6 linked regions of the Homo sapiens genome follow. The protein of the gene in region 1 purifies or fractionates together with the protein of each later gene. This does not show direct contact. Each region holds a gene or a part of one and is shown in the gene's direction. Other genes may lie near its edges.

Evidence for each region.
Region 2: the proteins of H2AB1 (region 1) and LUC7L purify together in Homo sapiens (affinity purification with mass spectrometry; one large-scale study listed by BioGRID and IntAct). This does not show direct contact.
Region 3: the proteins of H2AB1 (region 1) and APOBEC3A purify together in Homo sapiens (affinity purification with mass spectrometry; one large-scale study listed by BioGRID and IntAct). This does not show direct contact.
Region 4: the proteins of H2AB1 (region 1) and RAB15 purify together in Homo sapiens (affinity purification with mass spectrometry; one large-scale study listed by BioGRID and IntAct). This does not show direct contact.
Region 5: the proteins of H2AB1 (region 1) and CYBA purify together in Homo sapiens (affinity purification with mass spectrometry; one large-scale study listed by BioGRID and IntAct). This does not show direct contact.
Region 6: the proteins of H2AB1 (region 1) and LBR purify together in Homo sapiens (affinity purification with mass spectrometry; one large-scale study listed by BioGRID and IntAct). This does not show direct contact.

What each region holds. Positions count from the first base shown.
Region 1 is NC_000023.11:154,883,634-154,886,058, forward strand, and holds H2AB1 (histone H2A-Bbd type 1), read left to right. Parts: upstream 1-1,338; 5' UTR 1,339-1,416; coding exon 1,417-1,764; 3' UTR 1,765-1,925; downstream 1,926-2,425. UniProt on the Homo sapiens protein: Atypical histone H2A which can replace conventional H2A in some nucleosomes and is associated with active transcription and mRNA processing.
Region 2 is NC_000016.10:208,950-212,449, reverse strand, and holds part of LUC7L (putative RNA-binding protein Luc7-like 1), read left to right. Parts: intron 1-3,500. UniProt on the Homo sapiens protein: May bind to RNA via its Arg/Ser-rich domain.
Region 3 is NC_000022.11:38,956,424-38,960,408, forward strand, and holds the start of APOBEC3A (DNA dC->dU-editing enzyme APOBEC-3A), read left to right. Parts: upstream 1-1,185; 5' UTR 1,186-1,268; coding exon 1,269-1,297; intron 1,298-3,118; coding exon 3,119-3,263; intron 3,264-3,985.
Region 4 is NC_000014.9:64,945,316-64,948,336, reverse strand, and holds the end of RAB15 (ras-related protein Rab-15), read left to right. Parts: 3' UTR 1-2,521; downstream 2,522-3,021. UniProt on the Homo sapiens protein: The small GTPases Rab are key regulators of intracellular membrane trafficking, from the formation of transport vesicles to their fusion with membranes.
Region 5 is NC_000016.10:88,645,422-88,648,053, reverse strand, and holds part of CYBA (cytochrome b-245 light chain), read left to right. Parts: coding exon 1-9; intron 10-878; coding exon 879-953; intron 954-1,215; coding exon 1,216-1,299; intron 1,300-1,856; coding exon 1,857-1,938; intron 1,939-2,624; coding exon of another isoform or gene 2,625-2,632. UniProt on the Homo sapiens protein: Subunit of NADPH oxidase complexes that is required for the NADPH oxidase activity that generates, in various cell types, superoxide from molecular oxygen utilizing NADPH as an electron donor.
Region 6 is NC_000001.11:225,401,002-225,404,038, reverse strand, and holds the end of LBR (delta(14)-sterol reductase LBR), read left to right. Parts: intron 1-575; coding exon 576-736; 3' UTR 737-2,537; downstream 2,538-3,037. UniProt on the Homo sapiens protein: Catalyzes the reduction of the C14-unsaturated bond of lanosterol, as part of the metabolic pathway leading to cholesterol biosynthesis.

The sequences.
Region 1 (2,425 bases):
GGTATCACACGGCGAGAGGGCAAGAGCGTGTATGTCGTTTCAGGCCTCTCTTCCTATTCTTATAAAGCCACCAGTCGCATCCTGGGGGTCTCACCCCGATGACCTTATCTAATCCTAATTACCGTCTCAGAGGCTGCGCCTCCAATCAACATGTGAATTTGGGGATTAAGTTTCCAAGACACACAATTTGGGGGATGCACTCAAACCACAGCAACATCATTAGCCATTTGGGAAATACGAATGAAAACCACCATGAGATAGCACTTGACACCCAGTAGGATGGCTACTGTAAACAAAACAAAATGAGGCAAACAGAAAACAGGTTTTGATGAGGCTGTGAAGAAATTGGGACTCTCATGCACTACTGTTGGGAATGCGAAAGATTACAGCTGCTGTGGAAATCAGTTTGGTGGTTCCTCAATAAGTTAAACAGAATTACCACACGAGCCAGCAGTTTGACTGCTAGAAATAGACCCAAAAGAACTGAAAAGAGATATTCAAAGAAAAACCTGTAGAGAGATGGTCATGGCAGTGCCACTCACAATAGCCAGAAGGGGGAAATAACCTGTCCATCAACTGACGAGTGGGTAAACAAAATGTGGCCTCCTATTCATACAACAGAATCGTACTCAGTCATTCAAAGGAAGGAAGTAGTGATTCATGCCTCTACATGGATGCACCCTGATGAAACCATTACGCTAAGTGAAAGCAGCCAGACACACACGGCCTCACATTTGGTCGTATAATTCCATCTATAGGAAATCTCCAGAACAGGCTAACCTCTATGGACAGAAAGCAGATGGACTAGGGGTTGCCAGGGACTATCGGGAACGTGTGTATGGGCGGGGGCAGGGGGTGTGTGTGGGAGGGTGTGGGGGCTGGTAGTGGTGGTGTGGAAGGAGGCGTGCGGCAAGTGACTGCTTATAGGTACAGGGGTTTCGGTTTCTTTTCGGGGTGTTGAAAACGTTTTGGAACTAGGTGGTCGTGATGGATGTGCAACATTGTGAAGGCGTGGTACCCGTCCTCCCCTCGCCCACCCCTTTGTCTTTCCCACGGTGTTCCCATCCAGTAGAAAGGGAAAGTTCCCACTGGCAAAGAGAGGGTCACCAGCGCGATTCCCCCTGCCCCGCCCCACCCCACCCCCACGGCCCTCCAGCCACTTCTAGGCCCAGGCCTGCTCCCTCGAGGCCAATGGGAAAGTGATGAGGTCACCTGACGGACGTGTGTCCCTTGTGAGGGGCCGTCACCACATGCGTGCCCGTCGCCGGATGTGCGTGCCCATTGGTCTCGGCTCCCTAGCCAATGAGGGGCTGGGCCCTGGTCGCTAGGATACACAGTACTGGACGCGGTAACTGTCCTCTTGAGAGCCATCTTGCCTAGCTGGGCCAAGCCGAGATAGCACACTCAACGCCCAGCATGCCGAGGAGGAGGAGACGCCGAGGGTCCTCCGGTGCTGGCGGCCGGGGGCGGACCTGCTCTCGCACCGTCCGAGCGGAGCTTTCGTTTTCAGTGAGCCAGGTGGAGCGCAGTCTACGGGAGGGCCACTACGCTCAGCGCCTGAGTCGCACGGCGCCGGTCTACCTCGCTGCGGTTATTGAGTACCTGACGGCCAAGGTCCCGGAGCTGGCGGGCAACGAGGCCCAGAACAGCGGAGAGCGGAACATCACTCCCCTGCTGCTGGACATGGTGGTTCACAACGACAGGCTACTGAGCACCCTTTTCAACACGACCACCATCTCTCAAGTGGCCCCTGGCGAGGACTAGCTTCTGACACCCGGCCCCTGGGACCTGACAGGTCCACTCGTCCACCCACCCGGCCCCAAATCCCCCGGCCTGAACCCCCGGCCTTAAACACCCTCCCCCCACAACCCAGGCCCCAAAGTCTTGGGCCTTCATTAATTCTGTCAATAAAATGTTTCAAGGAAGCCATCTGCCCGCTTCAGTCACTTTGCCTTGGGGTGGGGGTGGGGGGGCGGTGAGATGGGTTGGGGGGTTGTGAGACCTCCACAGCTGGAGGGATGGAGAGGTGGTGGGGGTCTGGGGTTGGGTGGGAGCCAGGGATGGCACAGAGGAGCAGTCTCTCCGGGTGACAGTGCAGGGGAGTGGCCCTGGGTGGGAAGGGGACACCCCCGCTGGTTCTGAGCAAGTCAGGGCCTGCCCGGGAAAGTCCTCAGCATGATGGTGTTCGTTGGGGCGGGTGGGCCTCAAGACCATGACTGCAGTGTTGCGACAGGACGGACTTCTAAGGCAACCGGGGTGGGGACGGAGAGGTGGACCCGGTGCTTGGCAAGGGGCCCTGGACCGGAAGACGGAGGACTGAGTAGTCGGGGCGGGGGGGGGGGGGGACAACAGTCTAGAAATGCGCAGACATGGAATTAGGGTCACGAGTTTCGTTTGGGTCATGTTCAGATGGAGAGGCTGTGGG
Region 2 (3,500 bases), on another chromosome or scaffold:
TCAGATTTGTGAGGATGAAGTGCAGGTCTTTGGAGCCAGACCACAAGGGTCCTTGGATCCTGACTCCATTGCTTACTTAGTGGTTTGGTAGCTGTGCTTCACTTTCATCATCCATGCAATGGAGACCCGACGAGCTCCTCTGCGGCTGTGTTTTTTGAGATGGAGTTTCGCTCTTGTTGCCCAGGTTGGAGTGCAATGGCACGATCTCAGCTCACTGCAACCTCCGCCTCCCGAGTTCAAGTGATTCTCCTGCCTCAGCCTCCTGAGTAGTTGGGATTACAGGCATGCACCACCACGCCTGGGTAATTTTGTATTTTTAGTAGAGATGGGGTTTCTCCTTGTTGGTCAGGCTGATCTCAAACTCCTGACCTCAGGTGATCCACCCACCTCAGCCTCCCAAAGTGCTAGGATTACAGGCGTGAGCCACCGCGCCCGGCCCCTCTGCGGCTCTTTGGAGGTGTTTAGCGCACGTGCCTAGTGCAGCACAAGGGCACCTGTCTGCTGTGACAGTTCTGACTGACATCATGGGCTTTTCTCAGGCTCAGTGACCACCGGCCTGTGTCAGTGCTGCTGGGCCGGGAGAGCTGGTAACAGCACCAGGCAGTCCGTGTGTGGAGGGACAGCCTCCTCAGTGGAGATGACGTGTGCTGATATTGTCCAGTTTTGCCATACTGTTAGGACACAAGTCTTTGTGCTGGTGCTGTCTGTGCTCAGGGGCTTTTAGGGTTTATGTTTCATAACGCTACTCAGAGATAGAGAGAGATTGGGTGACTTTCTAGTAAGTGGTAGGTTGTGATTAGGACTTAATTTTTGGAATCGAATGTCTTTTTTTTATCATTTAGATCTGCTCTTTTAAGAAACAGGCTAAAGTTGAGAAACACTTTGAAGGGAGAGGGCAGTAGAACAGAAAGCCACCTTTTAAAGAACTTGGCAGCTCTTGGTTGGCTTGTTCTCTGTTGTGAAGTTTACCATTTATAGTTGTTGTTTTCTGTTTGAGCCAGTCTTGCTCTGTCGCCCAGGCTGGAGTGCAGTGGCGTGATCTTGGCTCACTGCAACCTCCGCCTCCCAGGTTCAAGCGATTCTCCTGCCTCAGCCTCCCTTGTAGCTGGGATTCACCTCGTAAGGCGAATTAACCTTAGCATATGATAGTTCTTTTAGTGTTTCCCACCACCCTTTTCAGAGTAAGCAATTAGACGTCTAGAGTTTCTTTTCCTCTATCTCTTTGGGTAAATAGCAACCAGTGGTGCCCGCCACCACGCCTGGCTAATTTTTTGTATTTTTAGTAGAGATGGGGTTTCACCATACTGGCCAGGCTGGTCTCAGACTCCCAAAGTGTTGGGATTACAGGCGTGAGCCACCGTGCTGGGCCTACCATTTAGTGTTCTTTTTTTTTTTTTGAGACGGAGTGTTGCCCTGTCACCCAGGCTGGAGTGCAGTGGCACACAGTCTCTGCTCACTGCAAGCTCTACCTCCCGGGTTCATGCCATTGTCCTGCCTCAGCCTCCCGGGTACCTGGGACTATAGGCGCCCGCCACCACGCCCGGCTAATTTTTTGTATTTTTAGTAGAGACGGGGTTTCACTGTGTTAGCCAGGGTGGTCTCGATCTCCTGACCCCGTGATCCGCCCACCTCAGCCTCCCAAAGTGCTGGGATTACAGGCGTGAGCCACCACGCCCGGCCACCATTTAGTTTTTAGGTTATCAGACATCTGAGTCCATAGCCAATTTGGATTCTGCTTAAGGTGCAGGTAATTGCTTTGATGGGTTTAGGTATTGGGAGAGTTGTCAGCTGCCTATTTCCCATTTGACCCCTCGAGTGAATCCCTGAATCTGTCTCAGGTTGGTGATTGATTGCTCAGCTTGAGCAGACAGTACAGGGCCACTGTGTGGGTGAACCTGGAGCATCTCAGACTGGTCTGTTAGGGGCTGTTGTCTGAGGTAAGCACAGAAGAGAAGGCACAGTGACCCTTGTCAGCTCCTTAATACTTGGATCCTGATGAGCTCCAGCCAGCTCTTCACCTTTCCAGAAAGTCCAGTGTACAGGTGCATAGAAGCAGTCAAATGCCGGATCATTTGTTTTCCTGATTCTTTGATTTGAACATACTGAAATGTTGACTAGAGAATATCTGGGTGACCAACAAGAAGCAGTTTATGTATTTTTTTGAGAGGGAGTCTCGCTCTTGTTGCCCAGGCTGGAGTGCAATGGCGCGATCTCAGTTCACTGCAACCTCTGCTTCCCAGGTTCAAGCAGTTCTCCTGCCTCAGCCTCCGAAGTAGCTGGGATTACAGGCATGCACCACCACTCGTGGCTAATTTTGTATTTTTAGTAGAGATGGGGTTTCTCCATGTTGGTCAAGCTGGTCTCGAACTCCTGACCTCAAGTGATCCACCCGCCTTGGCCTCCCAAAGTGCTGGGATTACAGGCGTGAGCTACCACGCCTGGCCAAGAGGCAGTTTTTGAATTCCAAAATTATGGAGTGATATCTGGGAGTCAGCCTTCATCAGTGATGCTGCTTGTGCTTTCTCCAGCTTCTTGGGAGACTGGGCACCAGGAGACTTGGAGGTTCTTCCCTATCTTACCTACTCCCAAGTATGCATGTTTTTGAAAAAAATATTTAAGATTTCTAGAGAAGATCACAATCTTCTCCAGTGTCTGTGTAATCCATTGTGGAGCAGTTTATTACAGCTGACCTACTGTCTCCTGTCTGTTTTAGGAGCGGTGACTTAGGTTATCACCCCTTAGTGTTTTCCTGTCATCTGCCTTCTCATCTCCACCTAAAATTTAGTTTTTGGTAAAAGATCATGCTATCTAACCTTGTCATCATTGCAAAACAAACTTATTTATGTTTATCATGATGCTGACATTAGCAAGCTGACTCATGGTTTAATGTTAGTGTTTCTTACTACTGGTCACTGGCTGACAGTCGGAAAAGTGATGCCCTATTTTTTTTTTTTTTTTTTGAGATGGAATCTTGCTCTGTTGCCCAGGCTGGAGTGCAGTGGTGCCATCTCGGCTCACTGCAACCTCTTCCTCCCAGGTTCAAGCGATTCTTCTGCCTCAGTCTCCTGAGTAGCTGGAACTACAGGTGCATGCTACCACGCCCAGCTAATTTTTATGTTTTTAGTAGAGATGGGGCTTCACTGTATTGGGAAGGCTGGTCTTGAACCTCTGACCTCATGGATCCTCCCGCCTCGGCCTCCCAAAGTGCAGGGATTACAGGTGTGAGCCACTGGGCCCTGCCTTTTTTTGTTTTTGTTTTTGTTTTTGATACGGAGTCTTGCTCTGTTGCCTAGGCTGGAGTGTGGTGGTCTGGTCTCAGTTCACTACAACTTCTGCCTCCGAGGCTCAAGCGATTCTCCTGCCTCAGCCACCTGAGTAGCTGGGATTACAGGCACCCGCTATCATGCCCAGCTAATTTTTGTATTTTTATTAGAGACCATGTTGGCTAGACTGGTCTTGAACTCCTGACCTCATGATCCGCCCACCTTGGCCTCACAAAG
Region 3 (3,985 bases), on another chromosome or scaffold:
CTGCGGGGCGTCCAGCTGTGCATGCCTCTGGTGTGAACTGGGAAGGGTGGCCTCTGGTCAGACTCACACAACACACCAAGATGAGCTCACACCAGAACCACCTGAGACTCAAATGGCAGTTGACTGCCCCCAGGGGACATCTTCTTGACTAGAAGAGTCCAACATCTGGAGACAGAATGGGAGGGGTCCTCACGGCAGAGAACAGGGCCTCTTCTAGTCTGTGGCGCCCACCAAAATGGCAGGGACACTGTGCTGAGGTGGGAGGATTGCTGGCCAAAGACAGGGGGGTCTAGTAAGAGCCAGAACAGGGGAGCAGGCAGGACAGGGGACAGCCCCTGGGCCCACAGGGCCAGCACCTTCCAGGGGCAGCTGTGCTGGGTGTAGCAGGTGGACCTGGGAAAGGACGGCGCCAGACCTGCCGCCAGGACTCAGGGGCTCACTTGGGGCAGGAGCACAGTGTCCCTCACATTTCTGCAGGGCCCAGAGGTGGGAGAAAGGGCACAGGGTGGCCCTTCTGACAGGGGGGTGGGGGTGTGTCCCTGCTGGGGACTCTGTTTCCTGGGAGGGCCTGGATCTCTAGGTACCTTTCAGAGCCTTTAGCATCTCCTCTGGGTAATGGGGATGAAAACACTCCTCCCTCTAGTTTACAATTATTAGATACACTGATGCATAGGAGGATGCAGGACCTGCTGGTCTCCCATCTTCACAGCCAGGGAAGAAGATGCAGGACCCTAACAGAGAGCACAGGATGCAGCAGGTGCCAGGGAGCCTGGACCAGGCACATCCTGCACTGGCCACAGGGGAGGACACAGGGGTGGCTGTCCTGGAGCCTGCTCTCTGGACCGCTGAGTGTTATTCAGGGTCTTTCTCCAGGGTGTGGACACCTGTCTTCTCACCTGCCCCCTGGTCTCCTGCCTTCCAGATTCCTGTGGCCCACAGGGAGCAAAGTGTGGCCAGCTCTACATCCCCATTGTCACTCCACAGTGTCTGGTGGTTCAGTGGTCAGAGTGGGCACATCAAAACCAAAGCTTGCCCAGAGGCATGGCAGAGAACTTCCTTGTTCTGACGCTAATGAGGGTGGCACACTCGGCCTGAGCTGGAGAAGGGGTGGGGCAGGGTATCGCTGACTCAGCAGCTTCCAGGTTGCTCTGATGATATATTAAGGCTCCTGAATCCTAAGAGAATGTTGGTGAAGATCTTAACACCACGCCTTGAGCAAGTCGCAAGAGCGGGAGGACACAGACCAGGAACCGAGAAGGGACAAGCACATGGAAGCCAGCCCAGCATCCGGGCCCAGGTATGGGAAGCCCCTCCGAGCACCTCTGCGCCTCAGCCTCCTCTTTGAGCTTTTCTGATGAGCACTCACCTCTCACCCTCAAACCCCTGGGGCCTCTCTTTTCCTCCTGACCCTCTCTCTGGACCTGGCCTCTTGCTCTAGGTTCCCAGTTTTGGTCCCAGCGCTGGTCTCTCCTCCGATGGTACCAATTCCAGGTCTCCTTCCACCTCCCGGGGCAGGTGCACAGGGAGCCTGAAAATCCCAATAGATAATGGTGCTGTGCCCCAGCCAGTGAAGACGGTCAGAGAGGGGATTCTCCTCACTTGTCTTTAAATGAGCATCTACTATTTCTTGCAAATGTTCCATGTATCTGGACTTGGCCTAAGCCCTTTTTATGTTCAGTGTCATCTCGTTCTCCCTAATATTAAGAAAAGGGGGTTGCTTGTAGGACTGCTTGGCTATGAGGAAGCCTTGTTTCCTTTTTTTGAGAACACAGAGCAAGTGAGTGGTAGAGCCCAGATTCATGCCCAGGTCTACTCGAAATGGTGGGGAACATTTTGAACCTTCCTTCCTTCTTTCCTTCCTTCCTTCCTCCTTCCTTCCTTCCTTCCTTCAATTCTCTCTCTCTTTCTTTCTTCTTTCTTTCTCTCTCTCTCTTTCCTTCTTTATTTCTTTTTCTTCTTTCTCTCTCTTCCCTCCCTCCTTCCTTCCCTTCTGTGCTTCCTTCCTTTCTTCCAATATTTCCCTTTCTCTCTTCCTCCCTTCCTTCCTTTCTCTTTCTTTCTTTCCTTCTTTCTTTCTTTTTCTTTCATTCTTTCCTTCTTTCTTTCTTTTACTTCCTTCCTCCCTCCTTCCTTCCTCTCTTTCTTCTTTCCTTTCCTTCCTTTCTTCCTTCCTTCCTCTCTTTCTCCCTTTCTCCCTCCCTTCCTTTCTTTTTTCTTTCTTTTCTTTCTTTCTTCTTTCCTTCTTTCTTTCTTTTCCTTCCTTTCTTTTTTCTTTCTTTCTTTCCTTCTTTTTCTTTTCCTTCCTTCCTCCCTCCCTCCCTTCCTTCCTTCCTCCATCTCTCTTTCTCTTTCTTTCTTTCTTTCTTTCTTTCTTTCCTTCCTTCTTTCTCTTTCCTTCTTTCTTTCTTTCTTTCCTTCCTTCTTTCTCTTTCCTTCTTTCTTTCTTTCTTTTGTGCTGCCTCCCAACAGAGATTTTTCTAATTCTGATTATGTCAGGATGCATAGAGAGGGGCTGGGAGAGGTCTTCAAGGTGGGGCTGGTGTTTCCAGCCCAGGAGTCCTGAGCTGCCCCATCTCAATTGCCTGAGAAGCACATTTGGGAGACCTCAGGGCACCCTAAGGGATGTGGAAAATCCTATGAATTACCCGAAAAGAAGTCCCTGGCAGGTTCCTCTCCCCAGTCATCCCCCTCAGGAGTGTCCCTGTCCCGATGCTCGGTGTGGTAGGAGTTAACCCTGCAGGCAGGAGGAAGCCCCAGAGGGTCCATCTCCAGCAGGGGCTGTGGGTGAGCAGAGCCAGGACAGGGGTGCATGGTGAGGCCACAGAATAAGACCCAGCTCTACCCCAGGGAGAGGAGCAGGGTCCTCCTCGGAGGGCCTGAGCACACTGAGCTGACCCTGGGGAGACCCTGACAAGGCTTAGACAGGCCCCAGGGCTGCAGTGATCTCCCAGTGAGCCATAGAAGGGGTCAGAGGGGGAGGTTTGGAAGTGTGCTAAGGGATGTGCGGAGCAGGGGGAAGGAGGGTGGGGTGCAAGGGAGGAAGTGTGGGGAGGGAGGAGGAGGCAGGGCAGTCCAGGAGGGCTCTTCCTCCTCTGGTCTTTTCCCTGGCTGTCCACAGACACTTGATGGATCCACACATATTCACTTCCAACTTTAACAATGGCATTGGAAGGCATAAGACCTACCTGTGCTACGAAGTGGAGCGCCTGGACAATGGCACCTCGGTCAAGATGGACCAGCACAGGGGCTTTCTACACAACCAGGTGACCGACCCAGCCATCCGAATCCGGGCAGGGCCCTTCCAATCCAGGGACATTCATAGGTAGAAGGTTCCGGATTGTACTTGTGGTTTCCTGCAGTGTTTGTCACTTGTGCTTCCTGCAGCTGCTGCTGCTTGGCCCTGGGGTTGGGGGGAGACTTCGGCTTCAGTGACTATCCATGCCCAGGTGGGGTTGAGTCTGCCCAATGGCAAAGTGCTTCCTGAGGACCCTCCCAGGATCCCCTCACAGACACAGCTCTCACCAGGAACAATTCAGCAATGTGGGATCTGAGGACTCAGGGCCTACCTGACCTCACAAGGCCAGGATGCCCCAGTGCCCTCTCCTGGGCTTCATCCTGCACGGAGAGAGACTGAGGCAGGAGAGGCTGACCAGGGATCCTGTCCTGCCCAGGGTGGAGCCCACAGCAAGGCCAGAACAGGTCCCATGTCAGGATGCAGGGATGTCCAGCATTTGGGGAGGAGCTGGGCCAGGCCAGGCTGAGGGGCCCTGAGCCCGGGGGACTTTCTTCCCTGGCCCCTACCCAGCACAGCCTCTGTCTGGAGAGACCAGGTAATGCTTGGCTCCGGTGCTGGAAACTGGGACCTTCTCTGGGCTCTATGAGCTCAATGTGGGCCTCGCTGGATCCACACACACTGCTTGGAACATCCTTTCAAGGGTGCCAGTCTCCATCACCGCCTAAGCAGTGGGACTCCCCCAGGAACGAC
Region 4 (3,021 bases), on another chromosome or scaffold:
CCACACGACACCCCTCTTCCCTCAGGAGGCCCGTGGGCAGACAGGGGAGCCGGGGCTTTGCCCTGCTGCTGTCCTCTCGTGTGATGACCCTATTGAGTATCAGTAGCCACTACTCCCCCTGCCTGGCCCTGAGAGCGGCTCTGCTGTCATCTCAAGCAGCCCCTGTCCCCAGCCCGTCCACCCTGGAGTGGTCTTCTTCAGCCTGTTTCCCCAGCCACAGGCCTGCTACGACCCCCACGATGTGCCGCAAGCACTGTCTCACCATCCCGCACCCACCAGACAACAGCCAGGGCTGGAGTCCAGGCCACTTTCAGCTGCTCCTTTCTCCGTGCATCGTGTCTCTTCTCTGCTTTTTCTCTCTTCCCCCACTTCTCTTTCTCTGACCCCTCCCCTCCGGTGCGTTTCGTATCAAAGCTCCTCAAACCCCGTCCCCCGTGTGTCCTGCTGTGTGCAGCTCGCTCTTTCCTTCCTTCCTAAGCTATCCAAGGGGATGGACCCAGGCTCGTGGGGAGGTTCCACCCTTGGATCCAGGAAGAACCCTCCACCCTGCCTCGTGGGTGGGCCAAAGGCTACAGGGTGCTTCTTCCTCTTCCCCCACCCCCACTGTCCCTCATGTGCCATGGGCCTGCCTCCCCAGTGACCTGCGAAAGTGGAGCATCGAGGTAGGAGGGAAACGGCAACCAGGGAGTCCTCGAGCCTGGGGCTGCCCTACCTCTACCCATTCCCCGACCAGAGCTTTGCCCTTGCTTGGCTGCCCGCCTGCCTCTTTGGGGAACTGAGCTCAGAGGCAGGTGCTTCAGAGAAGGAAACAAAATGAGGGGTGGCAGGGATAAAAAGTCACCTCCATTCTCTACCTCCCATGCAGCATGAACACAATTTCTCTCCACCTGGCTCCCAAATTTAAAGATGTGGACCAAGGCCTGTGGGTACTCCAGGGGCAAGGAGAGCCCTGGGGTCAGTGACACTGTCAGGCCAACCATGCACTCCACAAAGGGGAGCATTTGGAAATGAAGGACTAGCTCCTATGTATCAGGTTAAGAGCAAGGGAGAGCTGGCCAGGGACAGCAGTTTGCACAGCAGAGGGGAATGTAGCAACAGCAGGGCCTCCTAGGCCCCATCTTCCATTTCTTAGGTAAGAAGAGCATTTCCTCAGACTCCCAGGCGGAGGACTGAGCCTAGCCTTCAGCAACCAAGGTTCTCCTGGGACCCAAAGTTTATGGGAGAAGGGCAAAGACTTCATGGGAAGAGAGAAGGAAGGCCCTGGGTAGAAACGCTTGGTGCTGTTCTCTTTGGCCTTTAAGACAAAGCGCTCATCTTGCCCTCTACCTCCTGATAGGCTTGAGGGTTTGCCAACCACACTGTGGCTACAGGTGGAGGGAAGAGGACTCCTTCCTCCAGAGTGCTATGTTCAGGAAGTTTCTTTAACCCCATATGGCCCAAGAGTAGCTCGTAGGAGGCCCTTTAAAGACGGAACAAGTAATTTACCAGTTCTACTGGGGTTCCTGCCCACCGTCCCAAGGTGGGCGAGGCCTAGGAAGAGGGTCATTCTTAAGCCACACATTAGCTGCACTGCGTGGCTGCAGCCAAAACAAAGAACTGGGTGTTGAGTATTCATCAACTAAGAACCAAAATCCAGGGCACTCATATGTGAAGGATAAGAACCTCACTTCCTTACTCCTCCAAAAAGAAGTGGGGAAAGAACCATCAAACCTTTCCTCCTGACTTACCAAACCAGGAAAACAGCAGGAGAGGGTGGCTCAGGACTTAGGGACAGGGTATAGCTTAGATGGTGGAAAGCAAAGGAGAGCAGGAAGTTGTAAATCACTGGCTAATGAGAAAAGGAGACAGCTAACTCTAGGATGAAGCTGTGACTAGGCTGGAGTTGCTTCCTTGAAGATGGGACTCCTTGGGTATCAAGACCTATGCCACATCACACTGGGGCTAGGGAAGTAGGTGATGCCAGCCCTCAAGTCTGTCTTCAGCCAGGGACTTGAGAAGTTATATTGGGCAGTGGCTCCAATCTGTGGACCAGTATTTCAGCTTTCCCTGAAGATCAGGCAGGGTGCCATTCATTGTCTTTCTCTCCTAGCCCCCTCAGGAAAGAAGGACTATATTTGTACTGTACCCTAGGGGTTCTGGAAGGGAAAACATGGAATCAGGATTCTATAGACTGATAGGCCCTATCCACAAGGGCCATGACTGGGAAAAGGTATGGGAGCAGAAGGAGAATTGGGATTTTAGGGTGCAGCTACGCTCACCCTAAACTTTTGGTGGCCTGGGGCATGTCTTGAGGCCCAGACTGTTAACCAGGCTCTGCTGGCCTGTTTACTCGTCACCACCTCTGCACCTGCTGTCTTGAGACTCCATCCAGCCCCAGGCACGCCACCTGCTCCTGAGCCTCCACTATCTCCCTGTGACGGGTGAACTTCGTGTACTGTGTCTCGGGTCCATATATGAATTGTGAGCAGGGTTCATCTATTTTAAACACAGATGTTTACAAAATAAAGATTATTTCAAACCACCGGTGTGGCTGCCTGGATGAGTCCTTGGGGGTAGGTCTCACTCAGACCCTGGCAGTGATGTGGGAGGGAGAGAGGCAGTGCTGGTAGAAGCAGCTCCAGAAGCAAAGGCAACAGCAGTAGAGTGACCACGGAAGCGGCAAACATTGTCTTCCCTTCTCTACCTTCCCTAGTGCCACCTGCAGGGAGGCCCAAAGCAAAGCCCCGTTGCCCTGCATTGGGCTGGCACTGCAGAAATAAGATGAAACACAGTTATCGAGAGGATGCTGAACATCTATGAGCAGGTTTTAAAGCCAAGATGAGTCTCATCTGTTTGTGTGGGTCAGGAACGGGTCTTCCTGAAGGCATGAGGTGGGACTGGATAATCTTTCAGATTTGTGATTGGATACCTCGGGGGAGCAGAGGCAGACTGGGATCTCAGGACTGCAGGTATTTCATACTTTGGGATATGGAATTGATGGAGGTGGAGAATATTGGGGATAAGGACTGAATGAAGAAAGGA
Region 5 (2,632 bases), on another chromosome or scaffold:
CTACTCCATGTATCCTTCCACCTGAGGCTGGGGTGGGCGGGGAACGCCCAGGGCAGAGCTGGGGAGCCACTTCACAGTGAGCTGTTTGCCTCCGCTCCCCACCACCGCAGCCAGGCTGGGACACAGGGTGGGCTGTGCACGGGTTGGGCAGCCCAGGCCCCAGCAGCCAGGCCCCTCGCCAGGACCATGTGGCGATCAGCGGCAGACCCGCCAGTCTAAGTCCTGGTGAGTGGTGGGCAGGGGGTGTCACCAGAGGGCCAGGGCCAGCACTGAGGCCTCCCTGTTGGACTGCTGGGATCCCCTCTGCCCGCTCCTGTCAGTCATCCCCCTTGACCGGCCCCTCTACCTCCTCTGCCCCATCTCAGCCCTGCCGCCCAGCCGGACCTTGCGACAAGGAGCACTGGGCAGGGTGGTGGGAGGGAGGGCGTGGGCAGCCCCGAGTGCCAGACCTGTTGGAACCTCCCGTGGCTGCCTCCTGGCTCTGTGACCTCAGGCAGTGGCTGCCCCCGACCTTTTTTGAGACAGGGTCTCGCTCTGTCCCCCAGGCTGCAGTGCAGTGGTGCAGCTGTGACTCATGGCAGCCTCCACCTGGGCTCAGGCCACCCTCTTACCTCAGCCTCTGGAGTAGCTGGGACCACAGGCACACACCACTGCACCTGGCTTTTAAATTTTTTGTAGAGATGAGGGTCTCACTATGTTGCCCAGGCTGGTCTCAAACTCCTGGGCTCCAGTGATCCTCCCGCCTCAGCCTCCCAAAATGCTGGGATTCCAGGCATGAGCCACCGTGCTCGGGCCCCTCTCTGTGTTGTCTTCAGTAAAGGGAGTTCCCTGTGGCCCCTCAGGCTGAGCTGGGCTGTTCCTTAACCACATGGCTTCAGTGTGGCGGGCGTGTTTGTGTGCCTGCTGGAGTACCCCCGGGGGAAGAGGAAGAAGGGCTCCACCATGGAGCGCTGGTGAGTCTCCTCCTGCTCTGGGGTCTCTCCGGGGGCTGCGGGGCCCAGGCAGGGCTCACAGGGTTGGGTGGAGCTTGGTTTCTCACTTGGAGGCTCCGGAACCAACCCTTTGGTGCTTGTGGGTAAACCAAGGCCGGTGCCTGCCCGGTGTGTTTTGTGGGAGGAAAGAGGCCTGGGTGCCCTGGGGTGGTCAGCAGGGCAGCAAAGGAGTCCCGAGTGGGAGAGGCCCAGCCGCGCCGTCTCGCCTTCCTCCCTCCCCCAGGGGACAGAAGTACATGACCGCCGTGGTGAAGCTGTTCGGGCCCTTTACCAGGAATTACTATGTTCGGGCCGTCCTGCATCTCCTGTGAGTCCCCGTCCCGCACCCCCTCTAGGGCTCAGGAGGGCTTGGAGCCGACCCTCCCCACTGTCCCACCGGCCGGGCTGCCTGGACAGGAGCCACCCCCACTTACCTCAGTGTTTTTCCAAACAAAAATTCGGGTCCCTGGCTCTGGCAGGGCCTGTGTCTGCTGTCTAGTGTGCAGGATTTGTAAGGATCCACTCCAAATCCGAGGAGCTCCGATCCGTCGCCAGGGTCTGGGGTCAGCATGCACTGCTGGGGGGTCTTGCCTGGGCTTCCTGGTAGGGTGGAGGGTTCCGTGCTGTGTGTCTGCTGGTTACTGCCGGCTGAGGCCAGGACACCCACACGTGGCTGCTTCCTCCGAGCAAGTGCACCAGAGCCGCTAGTGTCCACATCAAGGCTGAGAACACCCAGGACCGAAACAAGCCCCGGTCCGCGCACGTCCCCTGGGTCTGCAGTCTGCCTTGTCCTGAGACTTTGTGGCCTTGGCCCCCAGACCTGGGGCTCCGTTCCCCTTTCTGAGTGCCCTTCTGTGTCCCTGCCTCTCACCCGCTGTCCCCCAGGCTCTCGGTGCCCGCCGGCTTCCTGCTGGCCACCATCCTTGGGACCGCCTGCCTGGCCATTGCGAGCGGCATCTACCTACTGGTGAGTGGCGCCCTCTGAGGTCGGCCCCGGCCACCCCCATCCCCAGCCCCTGCCCTGACACCCTCGGACACGCATGGCCCTTGAAGCCGGCTCTGTAGGCTGAGCCAAGGCTGGGAGCAAGTGTGAGCCTGGGCGTGTGCTCACAGCACGGCGGGGACGCAGCGGTTGCTGCTGCCATTTTTGGCGTGTCTAGTGTGTCGGGTCATTTCCTTGCATTTCCTCATTAACCCGCACCACAGCCCTGGGAGGGGTACTGGGGTCCCCACTTTACAGACAAAGATGCGGAGGCTCAGGGAGGTGCTGTGACTGGCCTGGGGTCACGCAGCCGGCCGAAGACCGTGCCTGCGCTTGGGTCCCATTATCAGGCTTTTCTCACCTAAACCCTATTCGCGCTGATTCATGGGCGGTGCCAGGACGCAGACATTTTCTTAAACTGCCGACACCTGCGTTTGGTTTATGACTGCTGCACCCTGTTAGAAGGCTGCCCATCCCATGGGATACAGTGATCTCTCTGAGAGGCCAGGGATGGGTGGGAGGACAGGGCGCAGCCTGGCCAGGCCTTGGGTGAAATGCCCTCTGCCTGCCCTGGGCTCCGGAACAGACGGCTGCAGGCCACCTCTCACTGCGGGGGTCTCTGGGTGGACAGAGCCCTCAGACTTTGCTTATTTAAATCCTTTTGTCCATAGAGCCAAGT
Region 6 (3,037 bases), on another chromosome or scaffold:
TCTGGCCTCGTGGGGAGCTGGGAAAGCAGGGGAGCAGGGAGAGCTGTGGGAGCTGGAGGTGCTTGGGGAGCTGGGGTGTCAGGGGGAGCTGGAGGTACTGGTGGAGCCAGGGGAGCTGGGGGAACTGGGGGAGCAGGGGGATCTTGGGAAGCTGGGGGAGCTGGGGGAACTGGGGGAGCAGGGGGATCCAGGGGAGCTGGTGGAGGTGGAGGAGCTGGCCCGTGCCTGCTGCCTGTTTGGTGGCCCAGCCTGTGGTGGAAGACAGCAGTTTTTCTTCTTTGCTGGGGGAAGAAGGGCGAGAAATGAAGAGATGTGTATTAACTATGAGGACAGATGTTTTGATTGTGATGGATTGTTAGAATGGATTCATCAGTCTTTGAGTAGCTTCTAATTTAGATACGACCTTCTGCCACTTTCCAGTGGGATTTTACAGACTTGTTTAATTATTCTCATCATTATTAGAGAAAATGAAGTACCTTGTGGTTCCATTTTTAGAGAATTTGGGGGAAAGCAGGAAAAAATACATTGTAGTGATAATAAAAATATCTAATACTGTGTACTATTATTATCCACAGGTTTTAACCACATTCTGCCTTATTTCTACATAATTTATTTCACCATGTTGCTTGTCCACCGAGAAGCTCGTGACGAGTACCACTGTAAGAAGAAATACGGCGTGGCTTGGGAAAAGTACTGTCAGCGTGTGCCCTACCGTATATTTCCATACATCTACTAATGCTCTTCTGGCTTTTCTACAAAATACTCCTGCAATTCCAGCTGCCATTTGCAAAAACAAGGAAAAAAATCCGAAACTTTCTTTTGTTGCACTGACAGGGTCTGTACTTTTTTTTTTCTTTTTGAGTCAGGACTATGGAGCCGAGTAGTTGATCTTTTAATATAGCCGTGTTTACTTGTATTAACTTACAGTTAACATAGGAAAAATACAAGTAAGGATGTGAGAATTTGCATTTTAATGGGAAATTTTCAACCCTTAATCTGAAAACAGAAGACAGTCTTAATATAAATGTACTGTGAAGAATGCTATTGATGTTTATGGTTTCTGATTACTTTTCAAATTTTGATGTTTTTTTGCCAGTTGGCTTTTCTTAAATGAAAACACTGTTCCATTTAAAGTACATTTATGTTTTATTCAGTAAGAGAATAGAATTTTCATTTGTTTTTCTTTAAATCCTTTACTAATTATATAATTTGAAAGCAAAAAGAAGGGCCTATATTAAATGCTGAAAGTGAAAAGTGATGACATTATTAGCAGACACTGCTTAAAGGAGACCATTTGTAGCAGTTGGCTTAACCTCAACTTCTAAAACTACATTGAAAATGTAAATACATAGCTTAGTTTTTTGTAATATATGGTGACTTCAGATTTTTTTGTACAGTATTTTGAATGTGAGATGATTGTCAGGACTAACTGTCTTTTTAACAAAACATTTTCAGTATTTTAAATAAAATTTTGTAAAGTAATGTGAATTAAAAATTTTGGAACAATTAGAATTCATTCACTATTGTATAGAAGATGCTGTTAAAACATAGGAAGGGTATTTTTCTTGATCCAAAGTTTGTGAATTTGGCTTTGCTACCTCAATTGCAGGTGTTTGTTTGCCTTTATAAACTGTTGCAAATAGAAAAAAAATAGAATAAGTATATATTTTTGGAGTAACATCAATATTTAAACATTTTTACACAGATCGGTGTTTGAAAATTTGCCATTTCAGGCTAATATTTTTATATATTTTTGACTTTTTAAAAGTTCATCAGTGTTTTTGCTACTGTTAAGCTTATGCAGTTTATACTGTATTTTTTATGTATCCTTTATATTTACCAAACCTGACTCCCTGTAAAGGAGTGCTGTCTTAAAAACAACTGAAGGGGTTAAAGTCGTTTCTTTTAGTTTAATAGATGTGCATAAGGTAGCTTTAGCAATTAAATTCTAGTGAAGTTGATATAGTCTCATTTTTAATTGTCCTGTAATGGAACAGTAGCAAATTCACTAAACTTTTGTGTTCAGAGTTAAATTGTTCTCAGTACTTTCAATGTAGGGGAATGTAATAAACATAGTGTGTATGTTTGGGTTTTAATTACACATTTTATATATGAGCCATTTAGATATGCAGTGTTAATTCTATACTGCATTTGAAGTGTATGTAACTTAGCTTATGTTAATGCAGTCATGAAGTTGGTTTGCTCCAGCATCCGGTAGTCTTTAAACATTCTTTTAGTGAAATTGTCATTGTTTTATCAGTGCTAATGTGTGCAAGCAGTTTTTTTATTTTGCTTTTCTCCTGGCATCAGAAAGTGGTGGCGTTTTCTGTACTGGATTGCACCAAGGAAGCTTTTGGGGAGGAAGGAAGGACATTAAATTCTTTCCCTGGTAATGAAAAGAGCCCTTTATCAATACAGTGCTGCAATTTCTGGATATCAGCTACACTTTGTTTTTAAGTTTGTTTTTGACATGTTTATTTGGCAAATTTTATAATGAAGTTTTAAGTTGAAAATAAAATGTAGCAACATTTTGATCACTTTGGAGCCTTTTTTTTTTCCCTTTCTTGCTTGAAACTGAGATTTTTGGGACCAAGACAGGAGCCCTTAGATTCCCACCCCTGCCCAGCCTCCTGTTTTCCTAGGATCATCTGTTTGGGACCCCTGGCCAACTGCTGTTTAAAACTCTCAGAATGTTGGAACTCAAAGGGGTTAGTTGGGAATCCTAACTCCCAGAAAATGGTCATGTGTTTAGTATTTGCTGTTTGAGAAAATACAGAAATGCTAAAACTATTGTAGATCCAGTCATACTTTCAAATGCATTTGTATGAATCACAGAAGCATCTGTGCATTTGAAAGACAGTACGTGTGTGAGAGACACACGAGACACACACATGTACTGTGCCTGCTGACCGTGCTTTAGTGCTTGTTTGGATTTCCAGTTGACTCTAAGCCTGAATTGTGAGATGAGATCAGACAGCTTCACCTCTCAATTCTTCCTGCTGCGACGTTACATTGTGACATTACATTGCAAAATGTG